4 linked regions of the Homo sapiens genome follow. The protein of the gene in region 1 purifies or fractionates together with the protein of each later gene. This does not show direct contact. Each region holds a gene or a part of one and is shown on either strand. Other genes may lie near its edges.

Region 1 (5,247 bases):
TATGTACTGAACAGGTACAAACTTGTTTTTCCTCGTCATTATTTCTGAAAAACTACAATATAACAAGAATTTACATAGCATTTGCATTTCGTCAGTTATTCTAAATAACTAAAAATGATTTAACATATCTGGGAGAAAGTGCATAGGTATATACAAATACCACATAGAAGGAAATAGAGCATCTGCAGATTTTGGTGTGTGCTAAAGTTCTGGAAAAAATCCCCTGTGAATACCCAGAAATGACTATCTTTGAAATCTGAAGTAGAAGCTCCAAGGCGTCACACATCAGAATTCCAAAAATTGGGGCTCCCAGTCCCTAGAGAGTTGCCCTCATCTTTGTGATCTTGCATGGTTTCCAGCTACATCAGCATTCCAGCCTTATGGAAAAGGACGAGGGGAAGGAGAGGCTTTACTCCTTCTATTGATCCTGTGAGCAAGGAATTGCTTACATCACTTTGTGATTCTTCCACTTAACAGCACCTGGTCATACAATGTCATCCAGCATCAAGGAAAACTGGGATGTGGGTCTTTGTGCTGCTTTTATACTCTCAGAATTGTTATGTGACCGAAGAGGAAAATGAATATTGGGGCAATCTAGCAGTCTCTTCAGCCCTGATTGTCTCTGACTCTGTGCTCACATCAAGATTTTTCAGGAACTCCTCAGAAATAATGAATGATGGGGCAGAGAACAGAACTGGAGCCTCATGCAGGGTTCCAGGGACCAGGGGCTGGTATTAGACTTGCTCTTCGTGTTGTGAACTCAGGAAAACCCTTTAATTCTCTATGCCTTGGCTTCATCTTATGTTATATGAGGATAATACCATAGATGGTCTTTAAGGAACACAGGCTAAATGTTGGTGATACTACAGGGAAAATGACAGGTATGACTTAGTCCTTATGGAGCTTTGGTTTTCATGAGGAAGACAAACATATCATACCATAAATATAGATAGAGAAACTCTTTAGTGCCCTGAGTGTGGATAACAGAGGCTCTCCTTTTCCTCCCATTTCCTTTCTGGGCCAATCAGGGCTGTGGCACCTTGCCCCTCTAAGAGAGCTCATGATGGATGCATTCACTCCTGATGCTTCTCTGTACTCCCAGCAAAGGGTGCATCTTCTGTCCACCAGGAGGCCTCCTGCCCCTGTGCATCCTCAGGATTCCAGAGCAAATGTGACCTCTGATAGGCAAAAAGGAACTCCTGAATTTATTCCTAAATGGCATTCACTCACCTCTATTTTGTTCCCTCTTTGATTTGCCTCTCCTTCTCTATGTGGAGTTTGCTTAGGTCAGTTTTTTTTTCAATCCACAATTTTGGCTGCCAACTTGGATTTAACTTGAGAATCACTCCTCTGCTTTACTCCCTGTAACATATATAATCGACACAGGGTGGTGCTGGGTATAAAGGGCTGCTCCAAGACTGGATTGTGAGTCAGACCTGCCGGACTCAAATTCATACTATGTAATACATAACCCCTGGGACAAATAATTCCCTTTCGTTGTGCTCCAATTGCATTATCTGCCATATGGGAATAATACCAATTCTTACCTCCTAGGCTCTTCGGGTGATTAAAAGAGACAATACCTTACAAACTCTCAATCAGCTGCTGTTATTCTCCCAGATTAGACCTAATCCTCATTCTCCAGTTGAAATCTGCATGAATCTCTCTCTTTACACTCCAAGCCCTACACATCGCCTATTTCCCCTCATGGACGCCTCTCATACAAATGTTTGCATCAACAAAGAAATGCTACCAAAGATCTCCTGAAAGAGAGAACCAAAAAGTTTACATTGTGTATACCCAGCAGAACACTTAGTAGTCCCCCATAGATATTTCCACACTTCAATTACCTCCGTCAGTTACACTCAGACCTCATCTTCACTTACTCTTTCCTCTGTTCTATTGCTGAGTAATTCAGCTCAGACCCACACCCTACCCAAACACTGTGTACAAAAATGCTTCTAGGTGTTCAGCAAAGCCACACTGAGTCTTCATTTCAAAGGCACATCAGTGGTCAATTTCAAGTTTTGGGCACACATCAAGAATTCTTCTCAACACAGATACAGCTTTCCACAAATAGAATTCTGATGAATTAAATTTTCTTCATCCAGTTATACGTGTGTGTTCTAATACCTTACATTGTGCTTTCATCTTTATTTTCCATTTCATCCAAATCTACCAGTACCATTAGTCTCATGCATGCATTCATTCATTGAATGAATGTATATGAAAAGCACAGTGTGCTGCTCATGGAAATAGGCACTGGGAGTATAAAATGTAAAATGTAGTCCTGTCTGCAATGACTGACACACTGAGTTATTTCTCACCCACCAGGCCCAGCCATTTTCACACTTATCCTAGCAAAGGTCACATTTTCCTCTAGTTCATAATGCATGGTCTTCCTTCCTGTCCATGGATGACCAGTCCTAGTCACGAGTGTGTCACAACCACCTCTTTGTGTATCTGAATTCCTCCACCTGAAAGAAAATTTCAGACCCAGGATAGATTAATCATCGGGTCCAAAGCCCTGGCCGGATGAGTGGGGGTGTTTTGATCCTAATGTTATTCCCATGTCAGCACAGAACTTGTGTGGCAGTAGAGAGATGTCAGGCTTCAGAGTCAACAAGAACTGGATTTCAAACTGGATTTGAGGACCCCCACCTTTGGTAAGTGACTTATTATCTGCGAGCCTCTGTTTCTCTCTTCTTTAAATGAGGACAGTAAATCCCATACGGCAGGGTGGTGGGGAGAATCAGAGATGATACAGCTGGTGATCACATCTGGTTTGTGTTCCCAGGGGCACCAGACTAGGGTTTCTGAGCATGGATCCAACCGTCCCAGTCTTCGGTACAAAACTGACACCAATCAACGGACGTGAGGAGACTCCTTGCTACAATCAGACCCTGAGCTTCACGGTGCTGACGTGCATCATTTCCCTTGTCGGACTGACAGGAAACGCGGTTGTGCTCTGGCTCCTGGGCTACCGCATGCGCAGGAACGCTGTCTCCATCTACATCCTCAACCTGGCCGCAGCAGACTTCCTCTTCCTCAGCTTCCAGATTATACGTTTGCCATTACGCCTCATCAATATCAGCCATCTCATCCGCAAAATCCTCGTTTCTGTGATGACCTTTCCCTACTTTACAGGCCTGAGTATGCTGAGCGCCATCAGCACCGAGCGCTGCCTGTCTGTTCTGTGGCCCATCTGGTACCGCTGCCGCCGCCCCACACACCTGTCAGCGGTCGTGTGTGTCCTGCTCTGGGGCCTGTCCCTGCTGTTTAGTATGCTGGAGTGGAGGTTCTGTGACTTCCTGTTTAGTGGTGCTGATTCTAGTTGGTGTGAAACGTCAGATTTCATCCCAGTCGCGTGGCTGATTTTTTTATGTGTGGTTCTCTGTGTTTCCAGCCTGGTCCTGCTGGTCAGGATCCTCTGTGGATCCCGGAAGATGCCGCTGACCAGGCTGTACGTGACCATCCTGCTCACAGTGCTGGTCTTCCTCCTCTGCGGCCTGCCCTTCGGCATTCTGGGGGCCCTAATTTACAGGATGCACCTGAATTTGGAAGTCTTATATTGTCATGTTTATCTGGTTTGCATGTCCCTGTCCTCTCTAAACAGTAGTGCCAACCCCATCATTTACTTCTTCGTGGGCTCCTTTAGGCAGCGTCAAAATAGGCAGAACCTGAAGCTGGTTCTCCAGAGGGCTCTGCAGGACAAGCCTGAGGTGGATAAAGGTGAAGGGCAGCTTCCTGAGGAAAGCCTGGAGCTGTCGGGAAGCAGATTGGGGCCATGAGGGAGAGCCTCTGCCCTGTCAGTCAGACGGGACTTTGAGAGCAACACTGTCCTGCCACCCTTGACAATTACATGCGTTTTTCTTAGCGTTTCGCCTCAGAAATGTCTCAGTGGTAACTCAAGGTCTTCAAATAAATGTTTATCTAACCTGACAGTTGCAGTTTTCACCCATGGAAAGCATTAGTCTGACAGTACAATGTTTGGATTCTCCTTGATATTACCAATACATTTTCCCTGTTATCTTGCACTGAATCTTTCCTACTGAACACTTTTTCTGCACTTTTCATTGTAATAAAAGGAGTTCCTGTCCACAACCCTAAAACTCTTCTTTATACTTGTTTCCTACCTGATAGTATCAAAAAGGAAGATTCCTTATTAATCTGTCAGACTATGTTCCCCTGAAAATCATGTTCCCTTCTATGACTGGAGGCATTACTGCAGTTGGAAGCTCAATTCTTAATAAGTGAGTTCTGCTACCTCTAAATTCCATTGAATTCTCAGATATAAAGCAAAATAATGTCCTTAGAGAGAGATTCTCCCTTCATAAAAACAGTCTTAGAAATTGGTTTTATGAATAGCCCTCTCCTGTCATTTGTCCACACATGGTCACACGTTGGCTTTGGTTTCTAGTAAAGACAATCGTGGCCCCTTCCCCTTGAGAACTGGTAAGTGCTTATTTAGCTCTTCCTGGACTAACGGACCAGTGAGGAGCCTATAAATACACCCCACCAGTTCCATTTTGGCCATTGGAAATTAAAATTGGTTTCAAACTGGAAATTATCTTGAAAACCATTTATTATTCATTTACAGAGTCTTTAAGTTGTAGGAGAATTCTTCATACTTTCAGGTTTTGTACAAATTGTTCTGGCTGTAACTTTCAGTTAATTTTATGGCTGTTAACATAAGAAGCAAAACTGAAAACATCTGACTTTTCCATGCTAATGTCAATTATAGTATCCGGATAATAACTTACAGTTGGTACAAAATTCTGATACATGCTGTGACTTAGATGAACACGGAAACATTGTGCTAAGGAAAATATGCCAGATACCAAAGAACAATATTGTATGGTCAAATTCTACGAGGTATCCAAACTAGGAAATTCGTGAACACAGAAAATAAATTAGAAGGATCCTGGTGCTGGATGATGGAGAGAATGTGTAGCCATTATTTAATGAGCACAGACTTTCTGTGTGGAATAATGCAAAGTTCTTAAAAGGGACAGTGGTAACGGTTACGACTTATTGTGAATGCACTTAATGACATTGAATTGTACAAATAAAATGGTGAAAGTTGTAAAATGTATGTTATGTGCATTTTACCACAATTAAAAACATTTAATTATAAAAACAGGATCAGTACAAAATTCAGGACTATTCTCCACCAGTGGTTATCCCTTCAACAGATAGCTCAAGCAGACAGAAGAGACCACCAAGAGAAGATGTGACATCACAGCA
Region 2 (5,561 bases), about 18 Mb from region 1:
GGCACCTTCCTCACAAAGGCGGCAGGAGAGACTGAGAACGGGCACAGGAAAAACTGCCACTCTTTTTTTTTTTTTTTTTTTTTTGAGACAGAGTATTGCTCTGTTGCCCAGGCTGGAGTGCAGTGGCATGATCTTGGGGCTCACTGCAACCTCCGCTTCCTGGGTTCAAGCGATTCTCCTGCTTCAGCCTCCCGAGTAGCTGGGACTACAGGCATGCGCCACCTCGCCTGGCTAATTTTTGTATTTTTTAATAGAGACGAGGTTTCACCATGTTGGCCAGGTTGGTCTGAAACTCCTGGCCTCAAGTGATCCGCCCACCTCGGCCTCCCAAAGTGCTGAGATTACAGGTGTGAGCCACCGCGCACGGCCAAAACTGCCGCTTCTAAAACCATCAGCTCTCGTGAGACTCCCTCACTACATGAGAACAGCATGGGGGAACCGCCCCCATAACCCAGTCACTTCCCTCCCTCCACACGTGGGGATTACAATTCAAGATGAGATTTGGGTGGGGACACAGCGAAACCGTGTCACATGGCAAAACCCCGTCTCTACAAAAAATACAAAAATTAGCCAGGCGTGGTGGTGCACACCTGCAGTTCCAGCTACTCAGGAGTCTGAGGTGGGAGGATCCCTTGAGCCCGGGAGGTCAAGGCTGCAGTGAGCCAAGATCACACCACTGCACTCCAGCCTAGGCAACAGAGCAAGACCCTCTCTTTCAAACACAAACCTGGGTGACACCCACTCGGAAGGCTAAGGCAGGAGAATCACTTGAACCCAGGAGGCAGAGGTTGCAGTGAGCCGAGATGGGGCCACTGCACTCCAGCCTGGGTGACAAAGGCAAAACTTTGTCTCAAAACAAAGCAAAACCTGGGTGAAAGGTCTAAGCAGATGTTCACCAGGGAAGTTATTCAGACGGGAGATTGCGGTGGGAGGATACCCAGCATCATTTGTCCTTCAGGAACTGGAAACAGGGAGACGCCACTGCATACCCGACGGAGCAGCTAAAACCTTAAAAACCGACAGTACCAACGCTTCCAGGAACTCTCACCCATTGCTGGTGGGAATACAAAAGGCTAAAGCCGCTTTAGAAGACAGTTTCACAGACTCTCACAGAACTAAATATAAATATATTCTTGGGCTGGACGTGGTGGTTCACGCCTGTCATCCCAGCACTTTGGGAGGCTGAGGCAGGTGGATCACGAGGTCAGGAGATCAAGACAAGCCTAGCCAACATAGTGAAACCCCGTCTCTACTAAAAATGCAAAAAATTAGCCTGGCATGGTGGCAGGCACCTATAATCCCAGCTACTCGGGAGGCCAGGAGGCGGAGGTTGCAGTGAGCCGAGATCGCAACATTGCACTCCAGCCCGGGCAACAGTGCGAGACTCTGTCTCAAAAAATATAGATATAGATATAGATAGATAGATAGATTCTTACCATGCAATCTAGCAGTTTTGCTCCTGAATATTTATCCAACTGAATTGAAAACTTATGTCCACATAAAAACCTGCATGCAGGCCAGGCATGGTGGCTCACGCTTATAATCCCAGCAGTTTGGGAGGCTGAGGCAGGAGGATCGCTTGAGCCCAGGAGTTCAAGACCAGCCTGGGCAACATACTGAGACCCCATCTCTACCAAACTAAAAAACTTAGCCGAGTGTCACAGCACACACACATGGTCCCACCTGTCAAGAGGCTGAGTGGGATCTCAAGCCCGGAAGGCAGAGGTTGCAGCGAGCTGTGATTGAGCCACTGCACTGCAGCCTGGGCAACAGGGTGAGACCCCATCTCTAAAAGATAGTAATGAGCATTAAGCCACTGCGACCGGGAGGAACCTTAAATACATGTTTCTATAAATACACATTCCTAAGTGAGAGGAGCCAGTTGAGAAGGCCGCGCACTGTGATTTCAGCTCGATGACCTTCTGGAAGAGGCAATATGATGTGGTAGTGAAAACATCAGTTGTTTCCCGGGGAAAGGGGAGAGTGGATAGTAGAATGCAGCATTCGTATGGCAGTGAGGCCACTCTGTGTGGCACCATCCTGGTTGGTACATGACACTGCGTTTGTCCGAACCTGTAGAACTGGACAACACGAGCAGACCGTGTGCAGATTTTAAACATTCATTGAGGAGATGGGGGTCCCGGCGGGGAAGGCCGACTGACAAGAATCTTAACTACTGCAGATGCATTCCGTGACCTTCCTGAAGGGTGTTCAGAGGAAGGTGCTGAGTAACTTTGGAAATGAGCAGTGTCTATAAGGCCAGAGGCAAAAGGAATGGCACAGACGCTGCTCTAGTCGATAAAGTTTTGCTGCACAGAGGTGCTGACTGGCAGCTCTGTCACTGTGGTGTGTATGATGGCTGTGGGAGGGGAGTCTCTGGATAATCAGAGAAGGAGGGGAGTCTCTGGGTAATCAGAGGGAGGAGGAGGGGAGTCTCTGGGTAATTGGAGGAGGGGAGTCTCTGGGTAATCGGAGGAGGGGAGTCTGGGTAATCGGAGGAGGGGAGTCTCTGAGATGGAGGGGAGTCTCTGAATAATTGGAGAAGGAGGGGAGTCTCTGGGTAATCGGAGGGAGGAGGGGAGTCTCTGGGTAATCGGAGAAAGAGGGGAGTCTCTGGGTAATCGGAGGGAGGAGGAGGGGAGTCTCTGGGTAATCGGAAGGAGGAGGAGGGGAGTCTCTGGGTAATCGGAAGGAGGAGGAGGGCAGTCTCTGGGTAATCAGAGGGAGGAGGAGGGGAGTCTCTGGGTAATCGGAGGGAGGAGGAGGGGAGTCTCTGGGTAATCGGAAGGAGGAGGAGGGGAGTCTCTGGGTAATTGGAAGGAGGAGGAGGGCAGTCTCTGGGTAATCAGAGGGAGGAGGAGGGGAGTCTCTGGGTAATCGGAAGGAGGAGGAGAGGAGTCTCTGGGTAATCGGAAGGAGGAGGAGGGCAGTCTCTGGGTAATCGGAGGGAGGAGGAGGGGAGTCTCTGGGTAATCGGAGGGAGGAGGAGGGCAGTCTCTGGGTAATCGGAGGGAGGAGGAGGGGAGTCTCTGGGTAATCGGAGGGAGGAGGAGGGGAGTCTCCGGGGGAGTCTCTGGGTACTCGGAGGAGGAGGGCAGTCTCTGGGTAATCGGAGGGAGGAGGAGGGCAGTCTCTGGGTAATCGGAGGGAGGAGGAGGGGAGTCTCTGGGTAATCGGAGGGAGGAGGAGGGGAGTCTCCGGGTAATCAGAGGGACGAGGTTGGAGTGGCCGCTGTGATGGTGGATTACCATTGCACGTTTAGCCCAGAAGAGACAAAGATGGTTAAACAGTGTGTGCGCAGTGGTTAATGGATACACACAGATCTTGTTGCTGTACAAGCTGAGGGGGCCTAGAACCAGCTATGCTTGCAGCAGTGAGCACACCCAGGCCCAGATCCTGGTTCCTAGTGCCCTCCAGTCCACGGGGCCAGGGCTCTGAGGAGAAATGGCTGATTCCAGCACCGGGGCAGGAAATGCCCAGGATCAGCTGATCCTGGCAGTTCCAGAAAGTGAGGAGCTCTGTAAACAAAACCCCACAGTCACGGGATTGCGTCCCAGTGAAAGAGCCTCCCAGTGGCCAAAGAGCAACAAAATAATAAAGTAGTATTAGAATATAACCCAGAGTAGAAAATAAACATCCACGAGCCCATAGTGATATAAGTGATTGAGTAAATAAACAGAGGGAACAAGACCAACCTTCCCTGCAGAAGGTTTTCAGTAAATGAGGTAGATCCCCCCATTCCAGGAGCTGGCGTGAGCTCCCGGCACCGCTGTGCGCTGCGCGTGGTGACCTGACCTCCTTCCTGGGCGTGCAGCACGGAGAGGGCAGTGGGAGGAGGACGCTGCAGCCGAGGTGCCCGCAGACACCCCCAAGCCCAGTGGTCAGGTCAGCATGCACTGGTCATGTTCATGGCGTGGCCGACGGGGAGGCTGCTGCCCCATCCTCCCAACCCCGACGACCCCAGCCCGGCCATGCAGAGGCATAGTCGACCATCTCACTAAGGAACATTCCACAGAATTCCTGACCAGGCCTCCTCCAAACCATCCAGGTCATCAGAGACAAGGAGAGTCTGAGAAACCGTCCCAGCCTCGGGGAGCCTGAAGAGACAGAACGAGTAGATGCCATGTGGCTTCCAGGAAGAGATTGTTGGGGGCGGGGCAGGGGGAAGGACATCAGGGGAGAGCGAAGGAAGTGTAGGCCTCAGCAGCTGTGTGGCAGCACTGGCTTATTTATTTTTTATTTTTTATGTTTATTTTATTTTATTTTTTGAGACAGAGTATCACTGTGTCACCCAGGCTGGAGTGTAGTGGCGTGATCTCGGCTCACTGCAACCTCCGCCTCTCGGGTTCAAGTGATTCTCCTGCCTCAGCCTCCCGAGTAGCTGGGATTACAGGTGCCTGCCACCACATCTGGCTAATTTGTGTATTTTTAGTAGAGATGGGGTTTCACCATGTTGGTCAGGCTGGTCTCGAACTCCTGACCTTGTGATCCGCCTGCCTCAGCCTCCCAAAGTGCTGGGATTACAGGCGTGAGCCACCGCACCCAGCCAGCACCGGCTTATTAATGGTGAGATGTTAATGGGAAAACTGGGCCTGTGAGATATGGGAGCTTTTACTATTTTTACAATAATTCTGTAAATCTAAAACCATTCTAAAATTAAAAATTTATTTTTAAAATGCAATATATTTGTTTTCCTTTTAAAGCACTTCCCTCATTCTTACCCAACGGGACACACCTTCTCAAGTACTTAAGTAATTCTTTTTTTTTTTTTTTTTTGAGACTGAGTCTTGCTGTCACCCAGGCTGGAGTGCAGTGGCGCGATCTCAGCTCACTGCAACCTCTACCTCCCAGATTCAAGTGATTCTCCTACTTCAGCCTCCCGAGTAGCTGGGATTACAGGCGTCTGCCACCACACCTGGCTAATTTCTTATATTTTTAGTAGAGACAGGAGTTTCATGTCGGCCAGGCTGGTCTCGAACTCCTGACCTTTAATGATCCACCTACCTCAGCCTCCCAAAGTGCTAAGATTACAGGTGTGAACCACTGTGCCCGGCAAGTAATTCTTATGAACAAATTAGCCTTATAAAGTTGTCATAAACATTATGTGATGTGTGGCCAGGTTAGAGTCCTGTGTGACCCGGTCTGAGCTGGCCTCTGGGCAGCATGCCGTGTGGGGGCTGCCACAAGCTGATTCAGGGAGCACCGGCCTGGGGTGACGCACGCCTGTCGGGCGGAGGGCGGCCTGGGGTGACACGGATGGTGGCCTGGGATGACACGCGCCTGTCAGGCGGAGGGCGGCCTGGGGTGACACGCACCTGTCTGGTGGATGGCGGCCTGGGGTGACGCGCGCCTGTCGGGCGGATGGTGGCCTGGGGTGACGTGGATGGCGGCCTGGGGTGACGCAGATGGTGGCCTGGGGTGACGCGGATGGCGGCCTGGGGTGACGCAGATGGTGGCCTGGGGTGACGTGGATGGCGGCCTGGGGTGACGCGGATGGTGGCCTGGGGTGACGCGGATGGTGGCCTGGGGTGACGCGCACCTGTCTGGTGGATGGCGGCCTG
Region 3 (5,561 bases), on another chromosome or scaffold:
CACAGCAGGATGTGTGAGCCGGGGCTCTGTCCCAAGGCTGTGTGACCTCAGCGGCCTTGAGAACAGACACCAGCAGGTGGTCATGGCTTGACAGATACCCAGAGTGAGTGTCACATAGAGACCCAGGCACACCCCGCTGCTGATACATCAGGGCCCATCCCCATAACACAGGGACACATTCGAGATGCAGCCTCAGATCCCATGCGCATAACACAGACCACACACCAGCCACACAGAGCTGCTCACCTGGGTAGGCGTGTGTGCACACACACGCATGTGCACGGAGGGTCAACGCAGATGCCACACCAGGATGTGGTTTCAAACATGGCCACCTAATTCAGAAACACAGACACAGACTCAGATATACACTGACAGAGAAACTCACACACACACTGACACGCACACACACACACAGCAATGCAGGCATAACCTGGTGACAGAGAGACATGAGAGTCAGGCACAGAGAGTGTCCTCAGATGTTCAAATCTAAACAGTCTTAGACATAAGCTCTCACAGAGAGGCAGAGCTGGAGACACAGAGACAGAGATCCACACACAGAGAACCAAAGAAGCTGCCTTGTAGAATGTAAAGTCAGGCATGCAGCCAGTCAGACAGACACATGGACAGACAGCCGCATCCCAGACTCAACATGTGCAGGAGGACAGACACACACACAAAACAGATGGACAAGTCGGGCATGGTGGCTCACGCCTGTCATCCCAGCACCTTGGGAGGCCAAGGCAGGAGGGTAACTTGAGACCAGGAGTTCCAGTAGCCTGAGTAACATACCCAGACAGACCCAGCCTCTAAAAAAACACAAAACATAGCCGGGCCTGGTGGCGCACACCTGTAGTCCTAGCTACTCCGGAGGCTGAGGAGGGAGGATTGCTTGAATCTGGGAGGTTGAGGCTACAGTGAACTGAGATTGTGCCACTGTACTCCATCCTAGGCAGCAGAGCGAGACCCTGTCTCAAAAAAAAAAAAAAAAAAAAATGCCAGGAAAGATGGCTCACACCTGTAATCCCAGCACTTTGGGAGGCCAAGGTGATAGATCACAAGGTCAGGAGATCAAGACCATCCTAGCCAACATGGTGAAGCCCCATCTCTACTAAAAATACACAAAATTAGCCAGGTGTGGTGGCATGCACCTGTAGTCCCAGCTACTCAGGAGGCTGAGGCAGGAGGATCGCTTGAACCAGGAGGCGGAGATTGCAGTGAGCCAAGATCATGCCATTGCACTCCAGCCTGGGCGACAGAGTGAGACTCTGTCTCAAAAAAAAAATCGACAGACCCTTAGATTCAAACACAACCATTACAGAAAGAGGGACTCAAGCACAAACAGGGGAGACTCAGACACACCAACCCTCATAACCAACCTAGGGTCAGACACACAAATACAGACCCCCACTGACACAAAGCTCCCTTCCCAGACTCCAGGCGAGCAGGGACTGGTGGAGAGTGGCTTGGGCGGCCCCTGATCAACATCCCCACATCTCCCCACAGCTGTACCTGGGCATCGTGCTGGCGGCCGTGGTGATCATCACTGGCTGCTTCTCCTACTACCAGGAGGCCAAGAGCTCCAAGATCATGGAGTCCTTCAAGAACATGGTGCCCCAGGTGAAGGGTGCCCAGCAAGGGGCCAGACGGGGGTGTTAGTGTATGGGCTGGGGGCCGGGCCCAGTGACCCCCAGGCAGAGGGAGTCTGGGAGGTGACATTACTCCATCCCACCTCAGCAAGCCCTGGTGATCCGGGAAGGTGAGAAGATGCAGGTGAACGCTGAGGAGGTGGTGGTCGGGGACCTGGTGGAGATCAAGGGTGGAGACCGAGTGCCAGCTGACCTGCGGATCATCTCAGCCCACGGCTGCAAGGTGGGCCTGGGCCTAGGGCCCGGCTTTACCCTCCCTCGGGCTGCCCAGGAGCTCAGGCCCAGCCCCTCCTCCCTCACACTCAGGAGTCCAGGTCCCAACCCCTCCTCCCTCAGACCCAGGAGTCCAGGCCCCCAGGCCCTCCTCCCTCAGACCCAGGAGTTTAGGCCCTGGGCCACCTCCTCACCCAACAGTCAGGAGTCCAGGCCCAGCCCTCACCTTTCGGAGATCCTTAGGGACCCTAGACCTTGGCCAGCAGCACTGTGCCTTCCCCACCTTCAAGATCCCAGCCTCTGGCCTCCCACACACCACTCACCCACTGGGCACCCAGGCTTCTAGCTGTGATCTCCAGGCACACAGGCTTCAGCCCCAAGCCCTGTACACAAATACCCTCCTGTCCCAGGCCCTGGACTGAACCCTCTCTCTGCTGCACCTACCCCCAGGTGGACAACTCCTCCCTGACTGGCGAATCCGAGCCCCAGACTCGCTCTCCCGACTGCACTCACGACAACCCCTTGGAGACTCGGAACATCACCTTCTTTTCCACCAACTGTGTGGAAGGTGAGGCGGGTGCAGAGAAGACACACAGCTGGGGCAGACACAGGGATGTGTCCCAGGGGGTCAGGCCTCCAGAACCTCCCTGAGCCACCCCACCTCAGCCTAACCCCTCTGGCCTGCAGGCACGGCTCGGGGCGTGGTGGTGGCCACGGGCGACCGCACTGTCATGGGCCGTATCGCCACCCTGGCATCAGGGCTGGAGGTGGGCAAGACGCCCATCGCCATCGAGATTGAGCACTTCATCCAGCTCATCACCGGCGTGGCTGTCTTCCTGGGTGTCTCCTTCTTCATCCTCTCCCTCATTCTCGGATACACCTGGCTTGAGGCTGTCATCTTCCTCATCGGCATCATCGTGGCCAATGTCCCAGAGGGTCTGCTGGCCACTGTCACTGTAAGGCCAGGCTCCTGGGTCTGGGTGGGGAGGGCCTGGGGGTCTGGGCTCCTGGGTCTGAGGGAGGAGGGGCTGGGATCCTGGACCCCTGAGTCTGAGGGAGGAGGGGCTAGAGGCCTGGACCCGTGTGTCTGGGGGAGGAGGGGCTGGGATCTGGACCCCTGGGTCCGGAGAAGGGGCTGGGGGCCTGGATCACAGTATTCTTGTGAAAGACAACTTGGGCCTGACTCAGAGGGCCTCATTAACAAAGCAAACAATCAAAGAAAGAAACAAACAAAAATCTTGAGAAACACTGGCAAGCCGTAAAGAGCCAACAATCCTATTGCAAAATTAAGAAGTGCACGCTCATGATGAAAAGTTGAAGAGTACATCAAGTTAAAAAATAAAATAATGAGGCTGGGTGCACTGGCTCACGCTGTAATCCCAGCACTTTGGGGGGCCAAGGCGGGCAGATCAGCTGAGGTCAGGAGTTCAAGACTAGCCTGGCCAACATGGTGAAACCCTGTCTCTACTGAAAATACAAAATTAGTGGGGCGTGGTGGCACATGCCTGTAATCCCAGCTACTCAGGAGGCTGAGGCAGGAGAATCGCTTGAACCTGGGAGGCGGAGGTTGCAGTGAGCCAAGATCACGCCATTGCACTCCAGCCTGGGTGACAAGAGTGAAACTCCATCTCAAAAATAAATAAATAAATAAATAAAATAAAATAATAAGCCTGGCGCAGTGGCTCACGCCTTTAATCCCAACAGTTTGGGAGGCTGAGGCAGGAGGACTGCTTGAGGTCAGGAGTTTGAGACAAGCCTGGACAACATAGTAAGAACCCATCTCTACCAAAAAATGTGAAGGCTGGGCGCAGTGGCTCATGCCTGTAGTCCCAAGACTTTGGGAGGCCGAGGCGGGTGGATCACCTGAGGTCAGGAGTTCGAGACCAGACTGGCCAACATGGCAAAACCCCATCTCTACTAAAAGTATAAAAATTAGCCAGGCGTGGTGATGGGTGCCTGGAATCCCAGCTACTCAGGAGGCTGAGACAGGAGAATAGCTTGAGCCTAGGAGGCAGAGCTTGCAGTGAGCCGAGATCGTGCCACCTCACTCCAGCCTGGGCGACAAAAGCGAGATTCTGTCTCAAAAAAAAAAAAAAAAAAAAAAAAATTTTTTTAAATTAGCCAGGCGTGGTGGTACATGTCTGTAGTTCCAGCTATTTGGGAGGCTGACCCGGGAGGTTGAGGCTGTAGTGGGCCATGATTGAACCACTGCACTCTAGCCTGTGTGACAGAGGGAGACTCCATCTCAAGAAAATAATAATAATAATAATTATTATAATAATAATAATTATTATTATTATTTTTAAAAATTTTTTCTCTGGCTGCTTTGCTGCCAGCTTCACCCCAGAAGTCCATTCTCTGTGAGGTTCCGCCTGACAGCTGTGAGCATATTGACTAAATGCTGTCTTCAAGGTGCATGGCAGGGACTATCTTAGAAATACCATTCTCCTCTTTCATTCTTTGACTTAATGTTTTATGTGAAGTTTTCCATATTAGGGCCGGGCAGGGTGGCTCACGCCTGTAATCCCAGCACTTTGGGAATCCGAGGTGGGTGGATCACTTGAGGTCAGGAGTTCAAGACCAGCCTGGCCAACATGGCAAAACCCCATCTCTACTAAAAATACAAAAATTAGCCAGGCGTGATGGTGGGCGCCTGTAATCCCAGCTACTTGGGAGGCTGAGGCACAAGAATTGCTTGAACCTGGGAGGTGGAGGTTGCAGTGAGCTGAGATCGAGCCACTGCACTCCAGCCTGGACGACAGAGCAAGACTGTGTCTCAAAAAAAAAAAAAGTTTACTGTTTTCCATATTAGCAATGTTGAATGCTACCCTATGTCAAATGGATTTTTATACGCAAAGGATTAAGCATATTGTGAGCACATAGTCTGATGATTTGGGGCAAACTGAACAGAATCACGTCAGCTGCAACGAGACTGCGTCTCCCTGAAGCCCCCTCAAGACCTTATTTAGCCCCTGCCCCCCAACCCAAGGGTAACCCCTGATCTGGCTGCTAACAGCATAGATTAACTTTGCCTGTGTTCAAACTTCCTATTAACGGAATAATTCAGTATGAACTCATTTCTGGCTCTTTTTGGCTGAACATGTTTTTGACGTTCACCCATGCAGGTGCAGGCAGCAGTAATGTATTTGTTTTTATCAATGTTAGTATTCCATTGTCCACAATTTATCTTTTCTGCTGTTAGTGGACATTTGAGTAGTTTGCAGTTTTGGACAATTTTTTTTTTTTTTGAGTTGGAGTCTCACTCTGTTGCCCAGGCTGGAGTGCAGTGTCACGATTTCGGATCACTGCAACCTCCACCTCCTGGGTTCAAGGGGTTCTCGTGCCTCAGCTTCCCAAGTAGCTGGGATGACAGGAGTGTACCATCATGCCCTGCTAATTTCTGTATTTTTAGTAGGGATGGGGTTTCACCATGTTAGCCAGGCTGGTCTCGAACTCCTGATCTCAAGTGATGCGCCTACCTCGGCCTCCCAAAGTGCTGGGATTACAGGCGTGAGCCACTGCACCTGGCTGTTTTGCACTATTATGCATGTGGCTGCTATGAGCATTCTAGTCCCTGTCTTTGGGTGTCTCTGCCCTGTTTCTATTGGTCTGAATTGGGGGTGGCATTGCTGGGTGCTGCCTCATTCTTTTCCAGGCCCTCAGGATTCTCTGGGGGCTGGGCAGCTGGGCTGTGGCCCTCGT
Region 4 (3,820 bases), on another chromosome or scaffold:
GGCAAAAGTCCTGGGATTTGCTTTTTTTTTTTTTTTTTTTTGGAGTCAGGGTCTCACTCTGTCGCCCAGGCTGGAGTGCAGTGGTGCAATCTCAGCTTACTGCAGCCTCGACCTCCCAGGATCAGTGATTCTCCCACCTCAGCCTCCTGAGTAGCTGGGACTACAGATGCACACCACCACATCCAGCTAAGTTTTTTTGTATTTTTAGTAGACACAGGGTTTATTCTTACATTTTTCTTTTCTTTTTGAGATGGAGTCTTGCTCTGTAGCTCAGGCTGGAGTTCAGTGGCACGATCTTGACTCACTGCAGCCTTCACCTCCTAGGTTCAAGCATTTCTCCTGCCTCAGCCTCCCAAGTAGCTGGGATTGCAGACGCATGCCACCATGTCCAGCTAATTTTTGTATTTTTTTAGTAGATATGGGGTTTTACCATGTTGGCCAGGCTGGTCTCAAACTCCTGACCTTGTGATTCACCCGCCACGGCCTCCCAAAGTGCTAGGATTACAGGCGTGAGCCACCGCGCCCGGCCTGAGATTTGCTTTTTACTCTTAGGCTGATCTTGCCTGCCTGATTGAAGCTGATCGCTTACATTTGAAAACAAAATATACTGAAAATAGAAAAACCTGAACGTTGTTATTGTCACAAGGCTGGCTAGATCTCCGGCATCTGCACACTCAGTCTGACCATTTGGGAAGCTTTCATGAAAAAGCACAGTCAGCGAGAATGAGACGAGAGAACCCATTTCCACAACCATTTTAATCTGCGCATCGGTCCCAGACGTAGGGATTCCTCGTCTCATCTTGGAAACATTGCCAGCAGTGGTTCTGATTTGGAAGCCTGCGTCTGTCACGTGACACCGTCTGAGCCTGTGCCTGCCTCTCTTTCTTCCGGCAGTGCCCTGTACTCTGTGGGGATGACGGCAGTGGGCCTGGCCATCCTGTGGTATGTTTTCCGTCTGGCCGGGATGACTGGAAGGGAAGGTGGATTCAGTGCTTTTGTAAGTTCTGTAAATCAGAGCTCTCTGAACTCTTTCTGGTTTGTGTTTGCTGAATACTTTTCCCATAAGCTATACGATGAATACACAGGGAAAACCTGTTGCAGAGAGTAGCCTGAAGCCACAATTAGACAGCAGCTCACCTTCCTTTCCCATGGTCCGGCTGTAAGGCGTGTAGTAACCAATGTTGCCTGAGGGCCTCTCACCCCTAACTCTGGGGTGCCTGAGCCTTGTGAGATTACAGGGCAGTTGAATCTGCGTTTTTCTTTTCTTTTTTTTTGAGACGGAGTTTCGCCCTTCTTGCCCAGGCTGGAGTGCAGCCGTGCGATCTCAGCTCACCGCAACTTGCACCTCCCGCATTCAAGCAATTCTCCTGCCTCAGCTTCCCGAGTAGCTGGGATTACAGGCACGCGCCACCACGTCCAGCTAATTTTGTATTTTTGGTAGAGACGGGGTTTCTCCATGTTGTTCAGGCTGGTCTCGAACTCCCGACCTCAGGTGATCCTCCCGCCTCAGCCTCCCAAAGTGCTGGGATTATAGGCATGAGCCACTGCACCTGGCCTTTCTTTTTTGTGTGTGTGTGTGTGTGACAGAGTCTGGCTCTGTTGCCCAGGCTGGAGTGCAGTGGTGCGATCTCAGCTCACTGCAACCTCTGCCTCCTGGGTTCAAGCGATTCTCCTGCTTCAGCCTTCCAAGTAGCTGTGACTACAGGTGCCTGCCACCACACCCAGCTAATTTTTTTGTATTTTTGGTAGAGACAGGTTTCACCGTGTTAGCCAGGGTGGTCTCGATCTCTTGACCTCGTGATCCGCCCATCTCGGCCTCCCAAAGTGCTAGGATTACAGGCGTGAGCCACCATGCCTGGCTGAGTAATTTTTTTTAAAGCAAATTGCTAGATAAGTTTCTTACTAATTAATGACGAAACATTTCCCTTCTGTGCTTGAAGACTGACTGTGAGCCTCGTCAGCCTGACATGAGTGAAGCCTTGGGATCCTAGGATGGAGACGTGGGGTTGGGGCGGCTCAGGTGCGTGGGCTGAGCGCTGGCATCGTGCTGCTGATTTCCTGACTTCGCCCAGCTCCTTGCACTTTGTTCTTTCTGCACAGAATCAGCTTAAAATGGCTCGTTTCACCATTGTGGATGGGAAGATGGGGAAAGGAGTCAGCTTCAAAGACGTGGCAGGAATGCACGAAGCCAAACTGGAAGTCCGCGAGTTTGTGGATTATCTGAAGGTGAAAGCAGCGTGGGCCGGGAGGGAGGTGTGAGCAGAGGCCGGCCGTCCTCCTCTCCCAGAAGGGCTCCTGCGGGACCTGGAATTCCATCGATGACGTGTCGTGGGTTGGCGGTGACCTCTACCATGTCCCATGGGGACACCAAGCAGGTGCTGGTGCCTGTTCAACCAGCAGCACAAGCCTCGTGCACATGGTTCAGCCAAGCAGAGGCTGCCAAGACCCATGCCTACTGTGCCGTTAGCCGTCCTGGGCCCTTCATCCCTTGCAAAGCTCTGTGCTTTTTCCAGAACCACATAAACACCTTAGCCAGTTGGTGGCAGTGCATGAGCTGCCTATCACGTGCGTCACTTACACGTTTCCTCCGCGGGCCTGGTACGGTGGGTCGCACCTGTAGTCCTGGCACCTCGAGGGGCTGACATGTGTTCCCTCTGCAGGCCTGGTACAGTGGGTCACGCCTGTAGTCCTGGCACCTCGGGGCGCTGAGGCAGGGGAGTGACTGAGCCCAGGAGTAGGAGATCAGCCTGGGCAACAGTGAGACCCTGTCTCTGCAAAACATTTTTTTATTTAATTAATTTTTTTTTTCGAGACAGAGTCTCACTTTGTCACTCAGGCTGGAGTGCAGTGGCACAATCTCGGCTCACTACAACCTCCACCTCCCCAGTTCAAGTGATTCTCCTGCCTCAGCCTCCCGAGTAGCAGGGATCACAGGCGCCCACCACCATGCACGGCTAATTTTTGTATTTTTAGTAGAGACGGGGTTTTTCCATGTTGGCCAGGCTGGTCTCAAACTCCTGATCTCAAGCTACGCGCCTGCCTCAGCCTCCCAAAATGTTGGAATTCCAGGTGTGAGCCACCGCACCTGGCCTGCAAGAAGTTTTTAAAAGTAGCTGGGCGTGGTGCCACATGCCTGTATATTCCCAGCTACTCGAGAGGCTGAGGTGAGAGGGTGGCTTGAACCCAGGAGTTTGAGGCTGCAGTGAGCTATCATGGCACCCACTGCACTCCAGCCTGCGTGACCCAGAGAGACCTTACCTCTAAAAAACAAAAAAACGGAATCCCCAAGTAGTTAGTGTTGCATTGTCTGCTGCCGTCCAGAGCCCAGAACGCTTCCTCCAGCTTGGCGCCAAGGTCCCAAAGGGCGCACTGCTGCTCGGCCCCCCCGGCTGTGGGAAGACGCTGCTGGCCAAGGCGGTGGCCACGGAGGCTCAGGTGCCCTTCCTGGCGATGGCCGGCCCAGAGTTCGTGGAGGTCATTGGAGGTAGGTGCTGTGGTTGGGGGCTGTGGGTGGGCTTGGCTGACTACCTGGCTCCTTTCACACATCCTTCCTCTGGTGTCTGGACTGAAAGGGACACGGGTGGGTGGGGGAGTAGAGAAGGAAAGCGAGGTCTGGGTTGGCGGAGGGGTTTTGTCTGCGAAGCACATGATGTTTGCTTCAAAGCCACCGTCACTTGTGGCCTGGGGGGCCAGCACGGTGCGTGTGAACCCTGAGGGGTGGCCAGGGGCCCCCGCGAGCAGCTGCCGTGTGTCTGTTTGTAGGGAATGGAGCTGGTAGCTTTAGTTGTCCTTGGTGTAGAACTTTGTCTGGCCCGGGTAC

Evidence for each region.
Region 2: the proteins of MRGPRX4 (region 1) and PTDSS2 purify together in Homo sapiens (affinity purification with mass spectrometry; one large-scale study listed by BioGRID and IntAct). This does not show direct contact.
Region 3: the proteins of MRGPRX4 (region 1) and ATP1A3 purify together in Homo sapiens (affinity purification with mass spectrometry; one large-scale study listed by BioGRID and IntAct). This does not show direct contact.
Region 4: the proteins of MRGPRX4 (region 1) and SPG7 purify together in Homo sapiens (affinity purification with mass spectrometry; one large-scale study listed by BioGRID and IntAct). This does not show direct contact.

Annotation. Positions count from the first base shown.
Region 1 is NC_000011.10:18,170,435-18,175,681, forward strand, and holds MRGPRX4 (mas-related G-protein coupled receptor member X4), read left to right. Parts: upstream 1-2,402; 5' UTR 2,403-2,822; coding exon 2,823-3,791; 3' UTR 3,792-3,846; downstream 3,847-5,247. UniProt on the Homo sapiens protein: Orphan receptor. Probably involved in the function of nociceptive neurons. May regulate nociceptor function and/or development, including the sensation or modulation of pain. Potently activated by enkephalins.
Region 2 is NC_000011.10:466,340-471,900, forward strand, and holds part of PTDSS2 (phosphatidylserine synthase 2), read left to right. Parts: intron 1-5,561. UniProt on the Homo sapiens protein: Catalyzes a base-exchange reaction in which the polar head group of phosphatidylethanolamine (PE) or phosphatidylcholine (PC) is replaced by L-serine. Catalyzes the conversion of phosphatatidylethanolamine and does not act on phosphatidylcholine.
Region 3 is NC_000019.10:41,982,172-41,987,732, reverse strand, and holds part of ATP1A3 (sodium/potassium-transporting ATPase subunit alpha-3), read left to right. Parts: intron 1-1,503; coding exon 1,504-1,617; intron 1,618-1,734; coding exon 1,735-1,869; intron 1,870-2,309; coding exon 2,310-2,427; intron 2,428-2,546; coding exon 2,547-2,815; intron 2,816-5,561. UniProt on the Homo sapiens protein: This is the catalytic component of the active enzyme, which catalyzes the hydrolysis of ATP coupled with the exchange of sodium and potassium ions across the plasma membrane.
Region 4 is NC_000016.10:89,528,583-89,532,402, forward strand, and holds part of SPG7 (mitochondrial inner membrane m-AAA protease component paraplegin isoform 1 precursor), read left to right. Parts: intron 1-894; coding exon 895-997; intron 998-2,100; coding exon 2,101-2,226; intron 2,227-3,321; coding exon 3,322-3,484; intron 3,485-3,820. UniProt on the Homo sapiens protein: Catalytic component of the m-AAA protease, a protease that plays a key role in proteostasis of inner mitochondrial membrane proteins, and which is essential for axonal and neuron development.